5 separate regions of the Homo sapiens genome follow, and all the other regions are linked to region 3. Evidence: fine-mapped expression QTL. A gene starts in region 3. Each other region holds a variant in brackets. All regions are shown on one strand. Distances are between the middles of the regions.

Evidence for each region. PIP is the estimated chance that this variant, and not a neighbour inherited with it, causes the effect. A credible set is the group of variants that fine-mapping cannot tell apart.
Region 1: its variant is the best candidate, but not a certain one, in a credible set for the expression of KRT23 in whole blood (INTERVAL, PIP 0.60).
Region 2: its variant is the best candidate, but not a certain one, in a credible set for the expression of KRT23 in whole blood (TOPMed, PIP 0.54).
Region 4: its variant is the best candidate, but not a certain one, in a credible set for the expression of KRT23 in whole blood (TOPMed, PIP 0.67).
Region 5: its variant is the best candidate, but not a certain one, in a credible set for the expression of KRT23 in whole blood (INTERVAL, PIP 0.67).

What each region holds. Positions count from the first base shown.
Region 1 is chr17:40,998,966-41,003,087 of GRCh38, forward strand. It overlaps KRTAP3-2 (keratin associated protein 3-2), which reads right to left and starts at 941. Exons shown (of 1, transcript NM_031959.3): 1 at 228-941. The coding sequence starts at 888. The coding sequence ends at 592. The variant C/A (reference allele first, on the strand shown) is at 2,088.
Region 2 is chr17:41,100,022-41,104,143 of GRCh38, forward strand. It overlaps KRTAP4-16 (keratin associated protein 4-16), which reads right to left and starts at 2,188. Exons shown (of 1, transcript NM_001396067.1): 1 at 1,481-2,188. The coding sequence starts at 2,188. The coding sequence ends at 1,481. The variant G/A (reference allele first, on the strand shown) is at 1,754.
Region 3 is chr17:40,935,920-40,940,041 of GRCh38, forward strand. KRT23 (keratin 23) reads right to left here and starts at 1,727. Exons shown (of 9, transcript NM_015515.5): 1 at 1,427-1,727; 2 at 289-1,034. The coding sequence starts at 684. The region is part of intron 1 of LOC107985072 (a long non-coding RNA gene); the gene reads left to right.
Region 4 is chr17:40,889,057-40,893,178 of GRCh38, forward strand. All of the region lies in intron 1 of LOC105371777 (a long non-coding RNA gene), which reads left to right. Among named protein-coding and RNA genes, the nearest start is that of KRT20, 5.9 kb to the left of the region's middle. The variant C/T (reference allele first, on the strand shown) is at 2,124.
Region 5 is chr17:40,992,393-40,996,514 of GRCh38, forward strand. It overlaps KRTAP3-3 (keratin associated protein 3-3), which reads right to left and starts at 1,772. Exons shown (of 1, transcript NM_033185.3): 1 at 1,038-1,772. The coding sequence starts at 1,705. The coding sequence ends at 1,409. The variant C/G (reference allele first, on the strand shown) is at 1,968.

The DNA of each region.
Region 1 (4,122 bases), 63 kb after region 3:
TAAATGTTGGTTCACACCAAAATTGCACTTGTCTGAGGAAGAAGAGAGAAGAGAAGGCAAACATGAAAGAGAACCTGTTAAAAGTTAGCAAGCCATGTTAGTAGTAGCAAGAATGTTAGTCATTCTGCCAATAGAGTCTTCTTTAAAAGATTAAAATAATCATCCTGTTTTTACCTTTTTAAAATGGAAGAAATATACCCAAAACTAACATAAACAAATGACACATCTTGCCAGAGAAATATAGTTTATTGGAAAACCCACCAAGAAATTTTCTTCTATGAAAATACCCAGTACAAGAAACAAGAGCCAGGAAGCAATATGATCAAGAACATGTAATCTGAGGTCTTAAAGATTGAAACAGTATTTTGCTAATAAAACTCATTCACCTGCCCACAGGAACCAAATGGTTTTTCAGCTAAATAACCATAAAAAATACTTTTCTTTTTTTCCCCCATTAAAACCAAAGGTAAGTTCTTCATATCTGGGTCATCTGGTCTACCTTAACATCTGGCAAACTACTGAGGCAAGTGAATACTGAAGGGACAGCTTCTGGATTCTTCGTTGTCGGGCACTGAGCAAAGTAGCCATCCATCAGCAGCCTCTTGGGAGGCAGGGCTCACAGCAGGGCTGAGTGAAGGTGGTGAGGTTGAGGGTCTCCAGGCCCGGAGTTGGCTGGCAGGAGTTGAGCAGGAAGCAGGTGGGCACGCAGGGCTGAGGAATGTGGCAGGGTGGGGGACAGTTGTCACAGCAGATGGGCTCCAGTAACCAAACTGTGTGTGGGCAGGTGCTGGGCAGGCAGACTCCACAGCGGCAGGATTTGTCGGAGGAGCAGATGGTGGTGGCAGGCCCAGTGGGGACACTGCAGCTGCGAGAGGCACAGCAATCCATGGCAATGGGCGTCTGGTTAGCTTTCAGTTTCTTAGATGAGGATTCTGAGGTACAAATGTCTCCTCTTTTGTTAGGGCTCTTATATACCCTCCCAAGTGGGCATTGGTCCAACTGGAAGCCTTCCTGTTTTGTTTATGGCACCCTTTTTCACTGAGATTCTCTAATCAGTTTGTCATTTACATGTCCATTAAGAGTTCCCGCTCTTATTAAGTTAATCATATTTTTGACTCATTGACTTGTCATTTTTGTCACAAGATCATCACATTTTGTCTTCACAGGTTTCTGGCATGCCAAACCTTATATGACTTTTATGGGTAATCAATCCAAGTGACAATTCAGCTGTAATTTTGGAGGCCAAACTCTTCTTGTTTTTCCCTCTTAATTTAAAATACTATGGATAATGTGATTTCTAATGACTAATTTCAGAATGAGTAACTCAAATGATGAACTGGACCATTTTCAACTCAATAAAGTCAACAAGAATATGGCTATTTACAGATGAATGTTTCATGTGACTACAGGCATCTCGGACATGTTTGCATTATTTAGTGATATTATAATTCAGGTTCTATTGAGCAAGCAAAGTGGTAGAATGGTACAGGATGAAGAAACTCCTTTTTATTATTTTTATTAAATCTGTAGTGAATTTCTCAATGTTGTATTATTCTATGGATTTTTTTTTTCTAAAATAGTCTCTATTCTCAAAGTTATGCCAATCTTGTGGTGAATCAAAGTATAAATTCATTGGAAGGAAGGATCCACACAGTGGCCATTCTTTGTTGAATATACCACTAAAAGAAAACCACCTCAGCCTTGATTCATTTTCACATGAATGGTGTACATACTTTAAAATAAGATGAAATAAGAATTAAAAGGAGAAACCACAAGAGTCACAGAACAATCATGGATTTTGGCAGGGAATCTGACTCAATGCAATTTAGAACTATGGCATTCATAAAAATCACTTTTTCACTGACTTACTCCCTACTTTGCATGTTTATTTGTTTTCATACCTTGGATCTTGAACTAGATTGAAATTCCTTTGAGGTATGCCTTAAACAACATTATTTACTTAAGTCAGCCAGAGATTGAACTAGATAATATCAAATGTGTAATATTCTAGATTCCAACATCTTCCTACACCTGTCCATGATCAGCACAAATCCTTTCAGATAATATTGTATAATTTAAATTACATA[C/A]TCGTTATGTGGCAATTTGTTGACTTAACAGAAAGCAAAGATTCCGGGTAGGTTGTTTCTGAGGGGACATTACCAAAAACCAGTACGATCTACTTAAAAGAGAAGAAAGCTGGCTAAAATCAGTGGAAAATATCAAATGTCATTGGTAGGTAAGCCTTATACGTTATACGTTAAAACAACCAGTTTATCTTTTTCTTTAACAACAAAAATATGTGGTACATATATGCCATAGAATACTATGCAGCCATAAAAAATAAGGAGCTCCTATCCTTTGAAGAAACATGGATGGAGCTGGAGGCTATTATCTTTAGTAACTAATGCAGAAACAGAAAACCGAATACTGCATGTTCTCACTTATAAGTGGTAGCTAAATGATGAGAACGCATGGACACATAGAGGGGAATAACAGATGCTAGAACCTATCAGAGGGTGGAAGGTGGGAGGAGGGACAGGATCAGGAAAAATAACTGGTAGGTACTAGGCTTAATACGTGGGTGATGAGATAATCTGTACAACAAACCCCCATGACACCAGCTTACCTATGTAACAAACCTGCACAGGTACCCCTGAACTTAAAAGTTAAAAACAAAAAAACAGAAAACAGCTTCAAATCATTTTTATTAGCAGGAATTTACAACAAATGCCAAGGGTGTCGAACATCATACTGTTACCAGATGGTGCCATGCAGTTCCAGGCTTTTGGTGTCCCAAAGAATTGGACGAGACACCCACAGCAAAACAAAGAAACAAAAGTGTATTAAGCACAGTATTACACTCTAAGAGGGGGAGAGCAAACCAGCCTCTGTGAGATGAGATCAGCCCCCAGCTTGGTGCAGTTTGCGTCTTTGTGTGTGTGTGTGTGTGTGTATGTGTGTGTGTGTGTCCCTTCCCAAGGCTGCCTAATCTCTAGCCAGTGTTTGCCTCTTTGATTGACAGGTGTGTTGCTTAGTTACTTTGGCCCCTGTGTGCTTGCGCACCACCTCCAGCCCATAATTTTAAGTACATACATGATATGCAGTCCATATGCATAAGCCTGAATGAGCTGATTTTCATACAAGGTCATGTTAAGGATACGTTTTCTCTTTAATGCACATGCTTATCCATGAAGAGTTGCCCCTTACTGGTTTGGTCCTTATCTTGCCGGCCATGGGGGCCTTGCTTTCTTCTCTATCTTACTTTTTGTTTTGGCTGGAGTGCAGTGGCATTCTCTGCTCACTGCAGCCTCTACTTTCTGGGATCAAGTGATTCTCCTACCTCAGACTCCCAAGTAGCAGCTGGGATTACAGGTGCCCGCCACCACACCCAGCTAAGTTTTGTATTTTTTGTAGAGAGGGGTGTTTCTCCATGTTGGCCAGGCTGGTCTTGAACTCCTGATCTCAAGTGATCCACCTGCTTCGGCCTCCCAAAATGCCAGGATTACAGCATGAGCCACCGCGCCTGGTCTAACTTCTGCTTCTTATCTTGCTTCTTGCTTACCTGCCCCTTCACCTTGCTTCTGGTCTCTGCTTTTATTCACTCCACCCTTTATCCAAGTTTTAATTCCCTTTGCTAGTCTCCTGCCTCAATACCTGCACTTTACCACTGAAGAACAGATAAGCAAATTCAAGTGGCTTTCCCAGTATATTATAAAATTCAAAGTTAATGAACTAGTATTGAAATCGTCAAGGAAATGTTTAATGTTTACTTACTCTTGACTTACCAGTCTCTCTCATCTAGAAGCCAGTGGCTTGGCAAGTAGAATATATGAAGAAGACCCTCTCCCATTCTCTGTGTTCTCTCTGACTTCTCTTTTAAAATCGATTTTGAAATATTATATAGATTCAGGAGATCTACTGTACAACATGGTGACTATAGTGAATAACCATATATTGCATTTTTGAAAAACGCTGAGAGAATGGATTAAGTGTTCTCATCACAAAAATGATAACTATGTGAGTCACGCATATGTTAATCATACAGCACATTACATAAAGTGAAGGCGGGAGTCTCCTAGGTACTTTACCCTCTGTGACCTCGTTCATACTGTTTCTTTAGCT
Region 2 (4,122 bases), 160 kb after region 3:
ATCTTTTGACTTCTGGATAAAAGAGAGGAAAACATTCCAAACAAAGAGATCATAATTTCATTTCAGGAAGACTAAACTAATTTACGTGGTAGGTAACATGTCATCTGATAAATAACATATGTGGAAAGTTGTGGAAGTTAAGATTCAATTTATAGAATGAGACTTGTTTATAGATAACCAGGAATACAGTGTTGAACGTGCATGCCTATATTCACACAGTAAAAAGACAGGAAGGAAGTAAACGCCAGATGGTAGCACTGGTTCTCCTTCACCTCCTGACTCCCTCGTTTTACTCTTGTCGATTGAAATAACTATTATTTCCAGTTTCGTATCAGTCAGCCAAAAATGTTTGTTGATCATCTGTTGTCTTAACTTAAATTCTACCCAATGCAAACCTTGAGAAAAATACCTGGGTGCACATAATTTATTTGGGGGATGATCCCAGGAAGCACAAGTGAGGAAATGGCGAAAGTAAGACAGAAAAGGTAGAAAATCCCAACAGTGTTTGTGTTAATGGTAGGACCCCCACTGTGGGCATCTGGGGATGAACCCCGGGGACAGGCCTGAGGCTGGAGGCACTTGGCCACCATGATTGCACACCTACAAAATCCTGGAGAGTCAGCTGGGTATTAGTATGAATCATGAGATCAGATAAAATATGAACTTATACTAATCTATAGACTTTTTATACACTAGCAATAATTGTCTCTAAAATTTAATGGAGAAAAATCACACTGGGGCCTGTCGTGGGGTGGGGGGAGGAGGGAGGGATAGCATTAGGAGAAACACCTAATGTAAATGACGAGTTAATGGGTGCAGCACACCAACATGGCACATGTATACATATGTAACAAACCTGCACATTGTGCACATGTACCCTAGGACTTTAAGAATAATTTTAAAAAAGAACAATGTGCTCACAATTCTCAAGAGTAAATAGAAAAATATGTAAATAAATCTGCCAAGCCTATGTGAAGGAAAGTGTTAATATTTCCTGAAGGACATAAAATAACGTTTGAATAAATGTCAGAACAAGAGATGTGCAACGAAAGCCAAGTTTTCAAATAAATACATACATGTGTTATGCATGCATTTAATGAGGATGTATCTCAATTTGTAACATTAGGTATTGAATGGGATTGGCAAAGACCGTGATGGGAAACTTACCTTTGGTTGCATTCTTTTGTATTGTCTAAATGTTTAAAGAGCATATATTTGTGTATAAATGATATAAAAATCCTTAGAAAATAATAAATTTGATTTATATAAAATTCATAATTTTTTCTACAGATTCTGTTAAGTATGTTTTCTGCTATTATGTTTACATTCTTATTTCTTTCAGGAACTAAAATATTAAAAGTACATTTCAGTCAGTCATTTGAGCTCTCAAATTAGCTATCATGAATTTCAAATTGTTTTGGGGGACAGGCTGGGTTCCCCAGGAAGCAGACACTGAGATGGAGAGCAATATGCAGGAGGTTTATTGAAGCATGCTCTTGGGATTAACACTGGGGAAATGAGGGGAGGGGAGGGGAGGGGAGGGGAGGGGAGGGGAAAGTGAAGGGAGAGAAGGGGAAGGGGAAGGGGAGGGGATTAACACTGGGGAGAGGAGGGGAGGGGAAGGGCGGGGAGGGGAGGGGAGGGCAAGGGAAAGGAAGAAAGGGAGGGGAACGGGTGGGGAAGGGAAGGGGAGGGGAAGGGGAGGGGAGGCACAGCACAAGGGGTGGGGGCAGGTGGAGATGACACAGGTTGG[G/A]TGATAGCAAGTGACGTGGCAGGAGACTCGACCACAGACTGGACGCAGGCAGCAGCAGGGGCAGCAGCAGCTCGATTCACAGCAAGAGGGGCAGCAGCTGCTGGAGATGCAGCAGCTGGGGTGGCAGCAGGTGGGCTGGAAGCACACGGAATGGCAGCACTGGGGTCTGCAGCAGCTGGACACACAGCAGCTGGGGTGGCAGCAGGTCGTCCTGCAGCAGGTGGTCTGACAGCAGCTGGGGCGGCAGCAGGTGGGCTGGCAGCACACGGAATGGCAGCACTGGGGTCTGCAGCAGCTGGACACAGAGCAGCTGTGGGAGCAGGAGGTGGTTCTGCAGCAGGTGGTCTGACAACAGCTGGGGTGACAGCAGTTGGGTGGGCTGGCAGCACACAGACTGGAAGCACTGGGGCTGCATGGCATCTTTGAACTGCACATAGTAAAATGCAAGAGGAAAGAAATGATTTAAAGGTGGAATTCATAATTAAAAGGGAAACAGAACATAAAGATGTGGAAAATGTGGAGACTGACCATATAAAGAATGAAAAAGCATGCAAGATTGTGGCCAAGTAATGCTTTGTTACAAGGATTGATATGAATAGAAGGAAGCTAGGTGCTGTTCATCAAATCAGTGGGAGAATGGCTCTGAAGGCATTTCAAAGATCTTTGAAGCTGTCCCTCCCATCACAGGCTCCAAATGAGAGAATCTTAAGGTCAGAAAGGGTTTGGTACTCTCCACATTCTAGCACAGTGCCCCTTTGCTGCTCCAGTTGTGGCTCAAGTGGGTTTAGATGAGACTTGCGCTGCTGCTGCAGAGGCCACAAACTGTGAGCCTTGGTGGTGTTCATGTAGTACTGACTGTAGATACACAGACTGCAGGAGTTGTGGGGCAATGGTGGTCCACCTAGGTTTGAAAGGATGTTTCTGACAGCCTGCCTTAGGGGTGTAGCCACAGCAGAGAGGTCCTCCTAGGGCCATGCTCAGGAAAACGGGGGGTCAGAGCAGCCACTGAGACCCTAGAACTGTAGAACTATCAGCCTGCAATACTAGCCTGAGAGAGCTGCAGCAGAGACTCCAATCAGATAGCTGCTGTATGGGCTGAGCCCAGCAAAGCCATGGGGCAGGGCTATCTGAGGGCATTTGGGGCCTAACACCAAGGCCCCAGGCAGCCCTTCCCCATGTCGGGCACATCCAGGAGACAGCACATGGAGTCGAAGTTTATTCTCCAGTCTTAAGATTTAATGCTGTCTTCCCTGTTGGACTCACCTGGGGCCAGTTACCCTTTTTTCTTTCCTGTTGCTGCCTTTTGGAATGGGCCTGTCTATCCTATGCCTCTCCCACCATTGGATTTTGGAACTAGATAACTTCTTTAATAGGTTCACATATGGAGGAGAATTTGCCTCAGGATAAGTCCTGTGTTGAGTCTTATTCATATCAGAGTCACATGAGACTCTTAGATTTACATTTTGACTTTTAAGTTGGTGCTGGAACAAGTTAATACTTTGGGACTATTGGAATAAAATGAATATATTTTGTGTACGAGAAGGACATGGATTTGGGGGACCAAGGGTGGAATGCAATGGTTTGAATGTGTCCCTCAAAGTTCATGTGTTGGAAACTTGATCCTCAATGCCGCAGTGTTGGGAGGTTGGGCCTAACAGGAGATGTTTGGGTCATGGTGACACCACCCTCATGAGTGGATTAATGCTGTTATCACAAAAGAGGGTTCCTTATAAAAGGATGAGTTTGACTCCCTCTTTCTCTGTCTCACCCTCTCTTTTTCCTTCCACAGTGGGAAGACACGGTATTCCTGGTTATCTATAACCAAGTCTCATTCTATAAACAGAATCCTAACTTCCACAACTTTCCACATATGTTATTTATCAGGGGACATGTTACTTACCATAGAAATAAGTGTAGTTTTCCTGAAATGAAACTCTGATCCCCTTGTTTGGAATGTTTTCCTCTCTTTTATCCAGAAGTCAAAAGATATATACACTTTTAAAGGACCTTACATGCTTCTATGTCATCAAAAAGCCTTCATTCACTCAAGAAACATTTATCACCAGTGTTCTCTGTCCTGAGTATCATGGTAACAAAAAGAAACATCATAGCCCATGCATTCAGGGTATTTGCACTGTATATGGGGGAATGAAAGAAGTAAATGTCTATGATACAGTAGAATGTATCAAATTATGAGCACAAGACAGGAAATAATAATAGATGAATGGGGTAGCTTATTAGGAAATATATTATTGAGAAGGAAATATTTTAACTGGGTTTTGACACATGAGTAGGAGTTTGCAGAGTGGACAAAAAAAGATGAAACATTCCAAGAAGATGAAGCAGTCTCAGCAAGCTTAGCAAATTGT
Region 3 (4,122 bases):
GTGAGAAATCAGTAGTCTCATTTTTGAAACAGTCTGTAGCACTTCTATCATTTTTGCTGCCTTCTTTTTCTACATTATCCATGGACAGTAGACTAATTAAACAAAACAGACGTTTCCCACTCCAAATTTAAGATATAATAAGAAAACATCCCCCAAAACCTTTGTGCACAATTACTTCAAGCGCTGATGCCATTTTCCTGGAAATTGTCTTCTGGACTCATTTTTCCTCCCGAGGGTCCCCTGGCAAAGCAGCCCCATCTGGATCTCCAGGGTCACCCAGCATCTTACCTGCTCCTGCAGGTGTGTGATGTTTTCCTCATACTGGGAATAATCTTTCTTACTGCCAGGATCTCTCTGCTGGTGCCATTTCAGGATGCGGCTTTCCAGCTTCATGTTGGCCTCCTCCAGGGCGCGAACCTTCTCCAGGTAGGAGGCCAGGCGGTCGTTGAGATTCTGCATGGTGGCCTTCCCATTTCCGCCTAGTAGGGGGCTGCTTCTTCCAGAACCCCAAGACCCTCCAGGGGGTGGGCAGCTCCGCGTGGTGAAGGACAGGGAGATGCGGGCTCCCCCCGCACCGCCATGGACGGTGGGAGCCCTGGGGAAGCTCCTGGGCCGGCCCCAGCCACCTCCGGCGCCATGGAAGGAGGCCGAGGGGGTCTGGCTGAAGCTGTGTCCGGAGTTCATGGTCCCATCTGTGTTTGGGACGGGGCTGAGCTCTGCTCCACTCCCTGGCACCGCAGAACTGAGCCGCCCCAGACTGCCCTGGATGGTTTTATGGCCTTTGCTGTGGGAGTTCCCTTCTCTGACAATTGTACCAACAAGATTGTATCATTGTGCAACTTGTGTTTCCTCTTGGTCAATCCCAAAGTGCCCCTGGGCCTTCGCACACTGTTGTTGTTTAGAGCCACATCAATATGACAGTTTGCTTCCTCCCTTCCCCTGGTAACCCGGAGGTGTGGCCCACGACATCAGGCGGGTATTGGGCTCAGGTATCTTTCTAATCTTGCCGTGAAGTTTTTCCATTGTTCATTTACCTGGAATGGGTTAGGTTAAAGTCCACCCAAAAGAAAGCATATTCGATGTAGTATAGATTTCCTTAAAAAAAACCAAAAACCAAAACCAAAACAAAACAACAACAACAGCAACAAAAAACCAGACATTAAACAACAGAGATACACACACCTTTTTCCACCCCCAATAAGCCCCACCTCTAAAGGGAGGGTGAGCGAGCCTGGAGAAGGGAAAGCCAGCTCAGAACAGGATCTCAGGTCCCAGAATAAAGCTTGCTGTGCTGAGGCAGCCGAGAAGGTGGTGAATATCTGATGCCTTTGTGGCAGTCACTGTTTGAAGGAAAGTACTTTCAAAGGACTCGCTCTTAAGAACAAACCCTCAATTATAGATGTAATTAATTAATGAATGACCGAACCTTCCACTTCCAGGGTGCCTTTCATCCCAGCACACCTCAAAACCAAACAACCCTGGCCTGCGCTCAGGATTTCCCTTGGCCCTGGGGGAGGAATGTAGCCGTTGTTAGCAGCCCCGGACCCCGGCTGAGCCTGCCACGGCTGGGCTCTGTGTGTCTGTGACCTGCAGAGGGACGATGGAAAACAGGAAACCTGCCATGGGCTGTCAAATGTGGTTGATGAATCTTATATTTCATCTGCCAAGGTAAAGGTTAGGAATGAATAAAGAAGCAGTCTGGGGGCGGGAGCCACGTGCTAGTTACTGGCAGTTGGATTTAAAGGGGACTTACAAATAAAATATCAGCGCAGGAAGGGCTTCTGGCCTTTCTGGTTCCAAGCCACTAATTGGACAGATGAGGAAAGCTGAGGCCTATGGTGGTGGGGAGGTTAGTGGCAGAGCCAGGGCTAGATTCTTTCTCCACATAGCACTGTTATCTTGGGTTGAATCTTGACAGGTCCTGTACCACACTTCTCTTTCATAATAATAGGACTTGCCAATTGGTGTAGCTCTTTTATATTCTTTATTGAATCCTCACAACTCTTTATGTATCCAGGCAAGGGTTGTTGTCTTCATTTTGCAGACAAAGAATCAGGGTCTCATAGGGATGAATGATCCAGAGCTGATTCGCATGTACAGTGTAATTGAGCACATGAATTCATAGGTGACACTGCCCGAGTCTGTGCTGTCCTCCCTGCCTGGAAAGTCACTCACCCCTACCTCTTCTATAGTTCAAGGGCTACCTCCTTCAACAATCATTTTCTGAATTCTCCTGCATGAGTTGGGTGACCCTCTAGGAGGAAACTGCCTCTTCTGGATGCCGAGGTCCTCCAGAGGGGCAGACACCTTGGCATCCCACCTCATGGTGGAAGCTGGGAGCCCCTAGCCAGGCGCAGCCACCTCCTGTGCCTGGGATGAAGTCCACTCCGTTCTTTCACTCCATTATACTGCATTTGCCACACCCTTCTGAGACCGCAGGCTTCTTGAAAGCAGAGTTTATGTCTTCCATTTTTGAGCACCAAAGTCTGGTTTCTTGGTGGTATTTTGCAAATGTATGTTGACTCAATCATAAACTTTTTAGAGTCAGGATTTTAACACAGGTCTCCTGATGCCATCAACTTCTGCTCCTTTTAGGACTGTGAGTTATAGAACTAGAAAGTAGGAAAACGCCTCTCCTGGGTATAGATTAACCATCCATGAAGGCCAATCTTTTCCAATTACAAATAAAGCCACCCAAAAGCACACCAGCTCTGCTCCTCCCAGTCTTACAACAAAACCTTATCAGGGAAGAGTCTCTGAATATTTTTTATTTCACTGTGCACGAGCTGGAAAAATGAGCCTCCAAGCCTCAGGGAAGCTTGGAGAGTGCTTAGAAAGAGTGCCGACAGTCACTTACATCTCAGATATGAGAAAAAGACAAAAGAGACAAGTGATAAAAATAGAGCAAATGAGGGAACTAGAGAGACTTGTTTGGCGAGTGGTGGCAACCAGTGTTCTGTGGATGTGGACGGTTCCTGGTCATCAAAGTTATGGTCAGCTCTGGTTCCTGTTCGCCTGGACCCAGACTTACCAAGGAAGAAAACATTTACCTTTAGCATGTGCAAGGGCCGGGCTGCACTGCCTTTTTCTAAATTCTCTCACCAGAATCTACAATGAAATTAATGCTTCTCTAATTATTTCAGGCATGTCTGAGTGGCAGTGACTTATCAACCCCATAGATTTGGCCACTGTCTCATTTTATGTCCATGTGTGGGAGTTTTGATTTATAGGACTTATCCTTGAGCAAAAGATTTCTTGTGTCATAGCAGGACCAGGGCCAGGAAAAACTGGTGGTGAGATCTGAGAGCACTGGGGAGAAATAGTCTCTTCTAGTACTGTTATATGATGGTTTCCCATAACTTCTTTTTTTTTTTTTCTCAAGATGGAGTTTTGCTCTGTCACCCAGGCTGGAGTGCAATGGCGCAATCTTGACTCACTGCAACCTCCGCCTCCTGGGTTCAAGCGATTCTCCTGCCTCAGCCTCCCGAGTAGCTAGGATTACAGGTGCGCACCACCATGCCCAGCTAATTTTTTGTATTTTTAGTAGAGACGGGGTTTCACCATGTTGGCCAGGCTGGTCTTGAACTCCTGACCTCATGATCTGCCTGCCTTGGCCTCCCAAAGTGCTGGGATTACAGGCATGAGCCACCCTGCCCAGCCAATTTTCCATAACTTCTTTTTTTTTTTTTTGAGACAGAGTCTCGCCCTGTCGCCCAGGCTGGAGTGCAGTGATGTGATCGTGGCTCACTGCAACCTCCACCTCCCGGGTTCAAGCGATTCTTCTGCCTCAGCCTCCCGAGTAGCCGGGACCACAGGTGCGTGCCACCACGCCCGGCTAATCTTTGTAGTTTTTAGTAGAGACGGGGTTTTACCATGTTGGCCAGGCAGATCTTGAACTTCTGACTTTGTGATCCACCCACCTCGGCCTCCCAAAGTGCTGGGATTATAGGCATGAGCCACCGCACCCGGCCCTGGTTTTCCATAACTTCTAATGTGTAGAGTTCCATTGGATTTTAAAAGAAATGATGCTTTTTTAAAAGCATCATTTTAAAAGCATTAAAAGAAATGATACATGCTTATTATACAAAATCAAGTGATACATGATGGTACAGGAAAAAATAT
Region 4 (4,122 bases), 47 kb before region 3:
GATGGATCCAGGAACAGATTAAGCCAGGATTATTGAACAAAATGTAGCTCTGAGGAAAATTTCCAGAATGCAGCTAAGTGACGAAGGAGGAAGTCAAGAAGGCATGAAGGCTATAATTAGAAGGTCTAAATATGTCTAATCAGAGTTCCAGAAGAAGACACAAGAGAATAAGAAAACATTCAACAAAATAAAAAGTGAGAATTTTATAGAATTCTTTAAAAAAAACCCAAGTTCTCAGATTAAGGAGACCTAATGAATTCCAGGCAAAAGGAATAAAAATAAATCACTACACACATTGAGGCAGAAAACCAGATAATTACAAGCAGATAGAGAATAAATCACCAACAAAGGAATGGTGGTTAGACTGATGACTGACTCCTCAAAAGCAACAATGGACACTGGAAATGGAATAGAATCTTCAATGTGCTGGGAGGAAATAACTGCCATTCCGGAATTTTCTGACTCGGTAACATTATATTTGAAGAAGGGTAAAATAAAGCCATTTTCAACATTTAAAAAACTGAATTTGCCATCAACTTCTAAGTTTTCACTAAGAGCAATCTGAAAGAATGTGTTTTAAGCAGAAGGAAGATGATTCCAGATGAAAGTTCTGAGATGCATAAAAGAATTAAAATAATGAACAAATAGAGTGCTAAGCATGCGACCAAATGTAAATGTAAAGACAAGTATTGGCTATAAAATAATATATCTATTGAGAAGAAAAAACAATATGGAATTAAAGTAGATGAGGGCTGGAAGGGGATGAATGGAGTTAAATTGTTCTAAATTGCGGGACTGTTTAGGAAAACAGCAAACATACAGATTAACTTTAGATATTGACAGGTTAAGAATGCATATTATATTTTCCACACAGGGACACATGGCGGAGAACAACACACACTGGCACCTGTGGTTGGGGGGAAAGCATCAGGAAGAATAGCTAATGGACGCTAGGCTTAATACCTGGGTGTTGGGATGATCTGTGCAGTAAACCACCGTGGCACATGTTTACCTATGTAACAAAACTGCACATCCTGCACATTTACCCCTGAACTTAAAATAAAAGTTGAAGAAAAAAAAGAATGCATATTATGTTTTCTAATTTTATGGTTTTGCCTTTCACATGATGGCTCTTACAATGATCTGGAAATAAGCCAGTGAATTAGCACAAAGAGCTCAGAAACAGATCTGTTGCCTATAGAAACTAATTTTGTACGGCTTGGGCATTTCAAATCAATGAGGAAAGAAATGGAGTATCCCATATTTAACAAATGGCAGTTGTATTTCTGTCTAAGGCAAAATTTACCTAAAATATAAGAAAATGAATTCCAGATTCATTAAAGATAAAAATGTGAAAAGTTAAAAACTATACAACATTTAGAAGAAAACACAGAATAATATCTCTAGGAATTAGAGTAAAGGAGTATTTTTAAACAAGACACAAAAAGTGAAAACTGTGAAGTACAAAATTGATACTGATTTAGCAATTTTTATTCATTAAAATATACCATAATTATAATGAAAAAAGCCTCAAACAGGGAGCAGATATTTAGAAGTCATGTAACTGACAAGCAATTAGTTTCCAGAATATGGAAAATTCCTACAAATCAATAAGAAAAAGAAAAGCATCCCAGTGAGAAAGTGGGCAAAATATGAATAGATTTGCAGAGAAGAGGAAAGCTGAATGGCCCATTCCACATCTGCCAATCGGAAAAATTTAAAAAGTTGGACGATAGCAAGGTGGCCGAGGGGAATTCCAGTCCATTCATGTTAGCTGTATAAGTAGGTACAATCACTTTGTAAAATAGTTTGAGATTATCTTAGAAGGCTGAACATTCATATAGCCATCACTCAGCAAACAATTCCTAGGTGTACACTTCAGAGAAACTCTTGTAAATATTGAACGATAGACATGTACAAGAATATTCACAGAAGCATTGTTCATATTAACAACACACACACGTACTAACATACACACACACAACAGAAAACTGGAAACAACTCAAATGTTAAGAGTAGAATGAATAAATGCGTTGATACATGTTCGTACAGTGGGATGCTATGCAACAGCTAAAAATGGATAAATTAGCTGGGCGCTGTGGCTCATGCCTGTAATCCCAGCA[C/T]TTTGGGAGCCTGAGTTGGGTAGATCACTTGAGGCGAGGAGTTCGAGACCAGCCTGGCCAATATGGTGAAACCCCGTCTCTACTAAAAATACAAAAATTAGCTGGGTATAGTGGTGGGCGCCTGTGATCCCAGCTATTCGGGAAGCTGAGGCAGGAGAATCGCTTGAACCCAGGAGGTGGAGGTTGCAGTGAGCCGAGATCATGCTACTGCACTCCAGCCTGGGCAAAAGAGCCAGGCTCTGCCTAAAAAAAAAAATAAAAAAAAATAAAAAATAAAAATAAAAAAAAGATAAATTACATTATTGACATGGATAAATATTAAAAAACATAATGCTGAAAAAAGACAACAGAATCCATCCAGATTTTATTGATATATAGTATAAAAACAGGCAAAACGAAATAATGTATGCTTAAGAGATATACATATAGATAATGTAGATTGCAAATGATGGTCACAGATTCCTCCTGTCTCTGATGCACACTCCTTTGCAAGTCCTTTCAGAGTCTGAGGGGCATCTAGACCATTTCCAATTTTTGAAGCTCCTGGTATATTAAACAATTGAAAAAAATTTAAAGTGTTTATATTTCCTTTACATTACCATTTGCAACACAAAATCTCATAATACAATAAACCTGTACCAATCACAAGATTTATTTAAAAAATACTAACTTATTTTAGTGTACTATAGGCTACGTGGTCCAGTGTGGGGGCATAGTTTCAACGGATGAGATGGATATCTTAATCGTGATCCTCCTGCGTCGGCTTCCCAAAATGTTGTGAGTACAAGTGTGAGCCACTGTGCCTAGCCAAGATGGATATAATCTTTTCATCCCAGAGGTGACGTTTGAAACCAGATAGGGCTGCATTTGGATTTAACATCCTAAATCTCTGACTGGGAAGCCACAGGCTCAACGGTCCTCTTCACCCCTGCAATTGGCTCCGTATCCGTGTTATTTTGCCCATGTCCAGTGTTATGCCAAGGACAAGTGAGTACTTATTTTACACAAGCTTGACTAAGAGAGAGCCCAACTGAATTCCTCCCAAAACAGAAGAATAATTTGTCACCAAGACTAATTCTAGTTCCTACCTCTAGAATCATAGTAAAGAAGTTACTGACAATTTAAAAATAATATTAGCACCTGTTTCTAGCCATCATTAGTTCATGAACGTTGAGGTCCAGTCTCAAACACCTACCTAAAAATGCAAATCTGATTATTTCACTTCTGTAAAAAACTGACAACAGTATGTAGTCAAGTCCAATATACAGCTCTCAAAGATCTAGCTCCTGCCTACCTTTTTAGACCCCCTGGTCACCCCTCCATGCCTCAGATGGCACACTCCAGTAACACACACCACTGATTCCTCCATTCCATGCTTCTGTATACTCCATCCCCTTCTCTTCTTCTGCATGTCATCTCTTCCAGGAAGCCATCCCTGTGCTCTCAAATTCCTTCCCTCCAGGATGACCAACTGTCCTGGTTTGCCCAGGACACAGAGCTTTCTGCAATGTGAGACTTTCAGAGTTAAAACTGGGACAGTCAGTCCCAGGACAGTTGGTCACCCCGTTCATCTCTCCTGTGCATGTCTCTCTTTCTTGGGTATAGTGTGTGCATGGGCTTTGGCCCTGATTCCTTTGTGGAATGAGTGGGTGTGGGACATGGGGAATAGGATGAGATGAGAATGACTGGGTGGTGATAGTGGTACCCCATGGCAAGGGGGACACTGGGACAGGACTGGGAGATGGTTTGGGAGATGGTTTACTTAACATAATGACCTCCAGTTCCATCCATGTTGTTGCAAATGACAGAATCTCATTGCAAAGGGAAACATGGTGTGTTTGTGGAAATGCCAAGTTTGTAGCACTTGTGTCAGATTTAGGTGGAGGAGACCTGGATGAAGAGGAAGACTGTTGAGTATTCTGATTTGGAGACCAGGCTGGGAGTGCATAATAAGGTACTGATAAGGTACGTAGGAAAGGTTTTCTCCAGTATTATTGAT
Region 5 (4,122 bases), 56 kb after region 3:
AGGCTGGAACCTCAAAGTCTGTTAATAGTGAATGACCTCTGGTATCTCCACTCAGCTTCTAATCACCCAGCAGCCACTCTTTGCTATGCCTGATGGAATTTCAGCCAGCGTATTTGCAACTGTGCCTTCTGTAAGTACTTGAGAACTTTTACACAGTCTTCTTTACTTACCTACGTATATCTTCTTCCTCTCCAGAATAACTTTCCAAACCCCATTTAGATATAGCTACTCGTGTTGCAAACATGACCTGTGTAGAGCAAGAAGAACAGAGTATTTCCATCTTGAACTCTCTTCTCCTTCTCGGCTCCTAGGCTCAATTGGTGACATAACTCCACTGTCTAGTCTTTCTTTGATATTTTCTTTTCCTCCATATCCCTTTGATGACTAGCTGCAGTCAATTCCTCTTTGACTATGTCTTTCCCACTTTACCCCCATGACAACAGTCTTCATTGTTCTCAATTTTATGATCCCACAGCACTTTACTAATACTGCTGGTAGAACACATCTTTTTTTATTATAACACAGCAACTGGCATTCGATAATTATTAACCGTAGGAAGAAACAAATGGATGTTGTGTTTGTATTTGCTTCACCTGCCAGATGGTTAGCTTATTTTCAGCAGAGACAATAAAACACAGGACACACAATAGACATTTAATAAATCTTAGTTGAATAAATAATGACATTATTATATTTTTTTCATAAATAGATCATGTCACCTGGATTAGTTTATATATTTTGTCATATTTGGTGTTTGGGTAATGTTCAGTATTTCTCAACCTGTCTGAAACCATTTTTTGGGAGGACAAGTCAGGAAAAGTCTACTTTCAAATATGCCGATGTACTAGACCATCTTACATGCAAGGATGTTTAATTTTCTTAAAACAGCAAGAACAGCAAAATTAAGAAATTTTTGTCCATACTGCCACCATTTTCAGTTTCACTAATGTTTCCAGTTTTTCTTTAAATGCCAATGTTCAGAGTTAAGAAACGCATTTAATGAATGAACAGAAATAAACAGAAGTAATTGTAGACACTTGTGCTATGCCAGAGATGTAAAATTTATTAGGATAATCATGAAGAACTTCCTTAATTTTCAGAAAGATACCACCCAAGACTGAAAACAGAATTCCCAAACCACCCACAGAAAGAGACACTTTAATATGAAGGAATCGAACAGCTTCAGGAAGCTATAGGCATCCACTGATTCAAACTGCAGTTGGTTATAGCTGAATGGTCATTGAAAGTTTCTTGGTCTCTTTTTTTTTGCAGGGGGTGATTGTGGTAGTACCATCCTTGTTCCAATTTCTAAAGCAGAGTACATTAGTTGTAGGTACTGAGATAGGTGAATGCTAAAGCTTCTATGTTGACTTTTTCAATCTCAGGCACTGAGCAAAGTAGCCATCCATTAGCAGCCTCTTGGGAGGCAGGGCTCACAGCAGGGCTGAGTGAAGGTGGTGAGGTTGAGGGTCTCCAGGCCTGGAGTTGGCTGGCAGGAGTTGAGCAGGAAGCAGGTGGGCACGCAGGGCTGAGGAATGTGGCAGGGTGGGGGACAGTTGTCACAGCAGGTGGGCTCCAGTAACCAAACTGTGTGTGGGCAGGTGCTGGGCAGGCAGACTCCACAGCGGCAGGATTTGTCAGAGGAGCAGATGGTGGTGGCAGGCCCGGTGGGGACACTGCAGCCTCGAGAGGCACAGCAATCCATGGCTATTAGAGTCTGTGGTATTTATGGGTTTGATTGAAAAGAAGGATAAGGCTTCTGAGGTGTGAATATCTCTCCTTTCTCTGGGGCTCTTATGTACCCTCTCCACTGGGAGTTGGTCCAGCCAAGAGGCTTCTTTCCTGGTTCTTGTTTATGTTAGTGTACCCATTATTCTTTAATTTGTTTGACATTTAGACTCTGTAAAGAGTCCCCATTTTCCTAATTAACTTTTATTTGAGTTCGTTGCTAAATCTGAACTGATTAC[C/G]CTTGCTATTTGTCACTGGAACACAAGCTTTATGAGGTATCACCAAAGCCTTCTGTTATTATATTTTCAACACCAGCCCTGCTGGGGAATATTGCATGACAGTGAGTCTGTAATATGTGGGCCTGCTCTCCAGTGCTGCTTTATTTTTAATCTGTCACTTTATCTATACCAATTTGTCTGATAAAGTATTCTTGTTTTAAAGAGTTGAACTTAATTTTACTTTCTTTTAGCTTTGAGGCTTTTGAAGATCAAAATTACATTAACATGAAGAAATATGCCATTAAGAAATATGGAAAAACTTTAAAAAACGCTTATTATTCTAGTTTTTTACTACAAAATATTTTGTATACATTGTTTATCATTACATTACATTACTGGAATCATATTGTGCATAGGTTCTGAAACTTGCCTTTGTGTGTGTGCATATATATTATATATATATATAATTATCTTATATTTTAAAGGATATTTGATAGTGTTACTTTTAATATTTCTTAGCATTTATTATATAATTGCACTTCTATGTTACTTTAAAATTTTATATTATTATGCATTGAGGTTATTTTCCACTTTTCTCTACAATAATTTTGGCAACAGAGCACCTCTGTATGTAAATCTTTGTGCATATTTTTGATTATTTCAGAAACAGAATTAATTATTTGGTAGAATTATAGGGGCAAATGTTAATTTCCAGTATTTTTAAGGCCTTTCATATCATTGCCATACTGTTTTTCAGAATGGTTCTATTTACCTACTTTTTTTTTCAAATTATCTATTTCCACCAGATGTGTTTGATTAAGAATTCCCATTTCGTATACCTTTGACAGATACTTTATTTTAAAGGTGTTTTCCAATTTCATTGGTGAAAAACACAATTTTATGATTGTTGTGTCTGTATTTCTTTTATAACCAGCTAGGTTGAAATATTCCTTCATATGCATATTGGCCATCTGTCTTCTATTGAGAGTTGGCTTGCTTTGTTTCCTTCACTGCTAATTGTGGGCAAATTGAATTTTTAGCTTCTGTCTATATAGACTAAATAAAATAATAACTTAAGAATACAAAACTAAAATTCAAGTAAAATTATTACCAAAGGAAACTTATGAGCCTGAGCTAGATTAATCTGTTGACATTTGATTTCATTCTCTCTCTCTCTTTTTTTTCTTTTTTTTTTTGCAAGGTATTGCATTTTTTCCTGAAATCAAATGTAGCTGTGGTAGGAAAGACCTGGTTCTAGTACCAGTACGCTATTTAGACTGCAGGCATAGTTCAGTGTTTAAGAGGGAGCACAAGGTGGGCTTGTGGCCAATATCATTTATACACCTCGAACCATTTCCGCTCAGCTTGGTCTCATGCTTCTTGCAAGCCATGGTTCTTCTCACATTCTTCATACCTCCTCTTTTAGGCACACCTGTTGAGTGGTGCATTGTGGTGTGCATGTTTGTATGTTTTGGGAATGGGGACGTGTAGTCAAGAGGACCACCTGAGGAGTCAGAATAGCTCTTGACTGTTCCCGGTGCTGCTGGTTATCTTCCTCGTTATGGTAAGTAATTCACTTTTAGGAGCTTCATCCTTTTTCTCTGCGAAATCAGGGTAATAGCATGCATATTCCTCCACTTAGAAGATTATTGTGAGGTTCACATGTGATAAAAAGGGTGAAAGCTCATGGACAACCATATAATGCTATGCAAAAATAAATTATTATCATGATTGAAACAAATTACAGATGAAATTCAAGGCAAGGTAAAGATAAAAGAAACATAGTCAAAAGAAGAAAAGAAAATGAGATGAAGGTAAGTAAGAGAGCAACCTTACAGGAAAGAGCAAACATTTATATTAGTTTATACAAATAAATAAATAAATAAATAATCACATCTACGATTAGAGAAAGTGGTTGGCATATAAATTAACAAACCTAAAAATTTGAAAAGCTCCCTATGGCTCTGATTGAAAGGGAGAATTCATGATATCTTCTGGTTCCTGGACTTTCCCCAGATTTATCTTTGTATGAATGCCTGCCGAAGTGTGCACCCTTTTACTTAGAACTGATTAGTATTTCACTTATTATTTAAAAAGTAATTCAACAGACATTTACTGAGCAGTTACTATGTGCTAGTCACTGTGATAAATGTTGGATTTATAGCAATAAACAAGA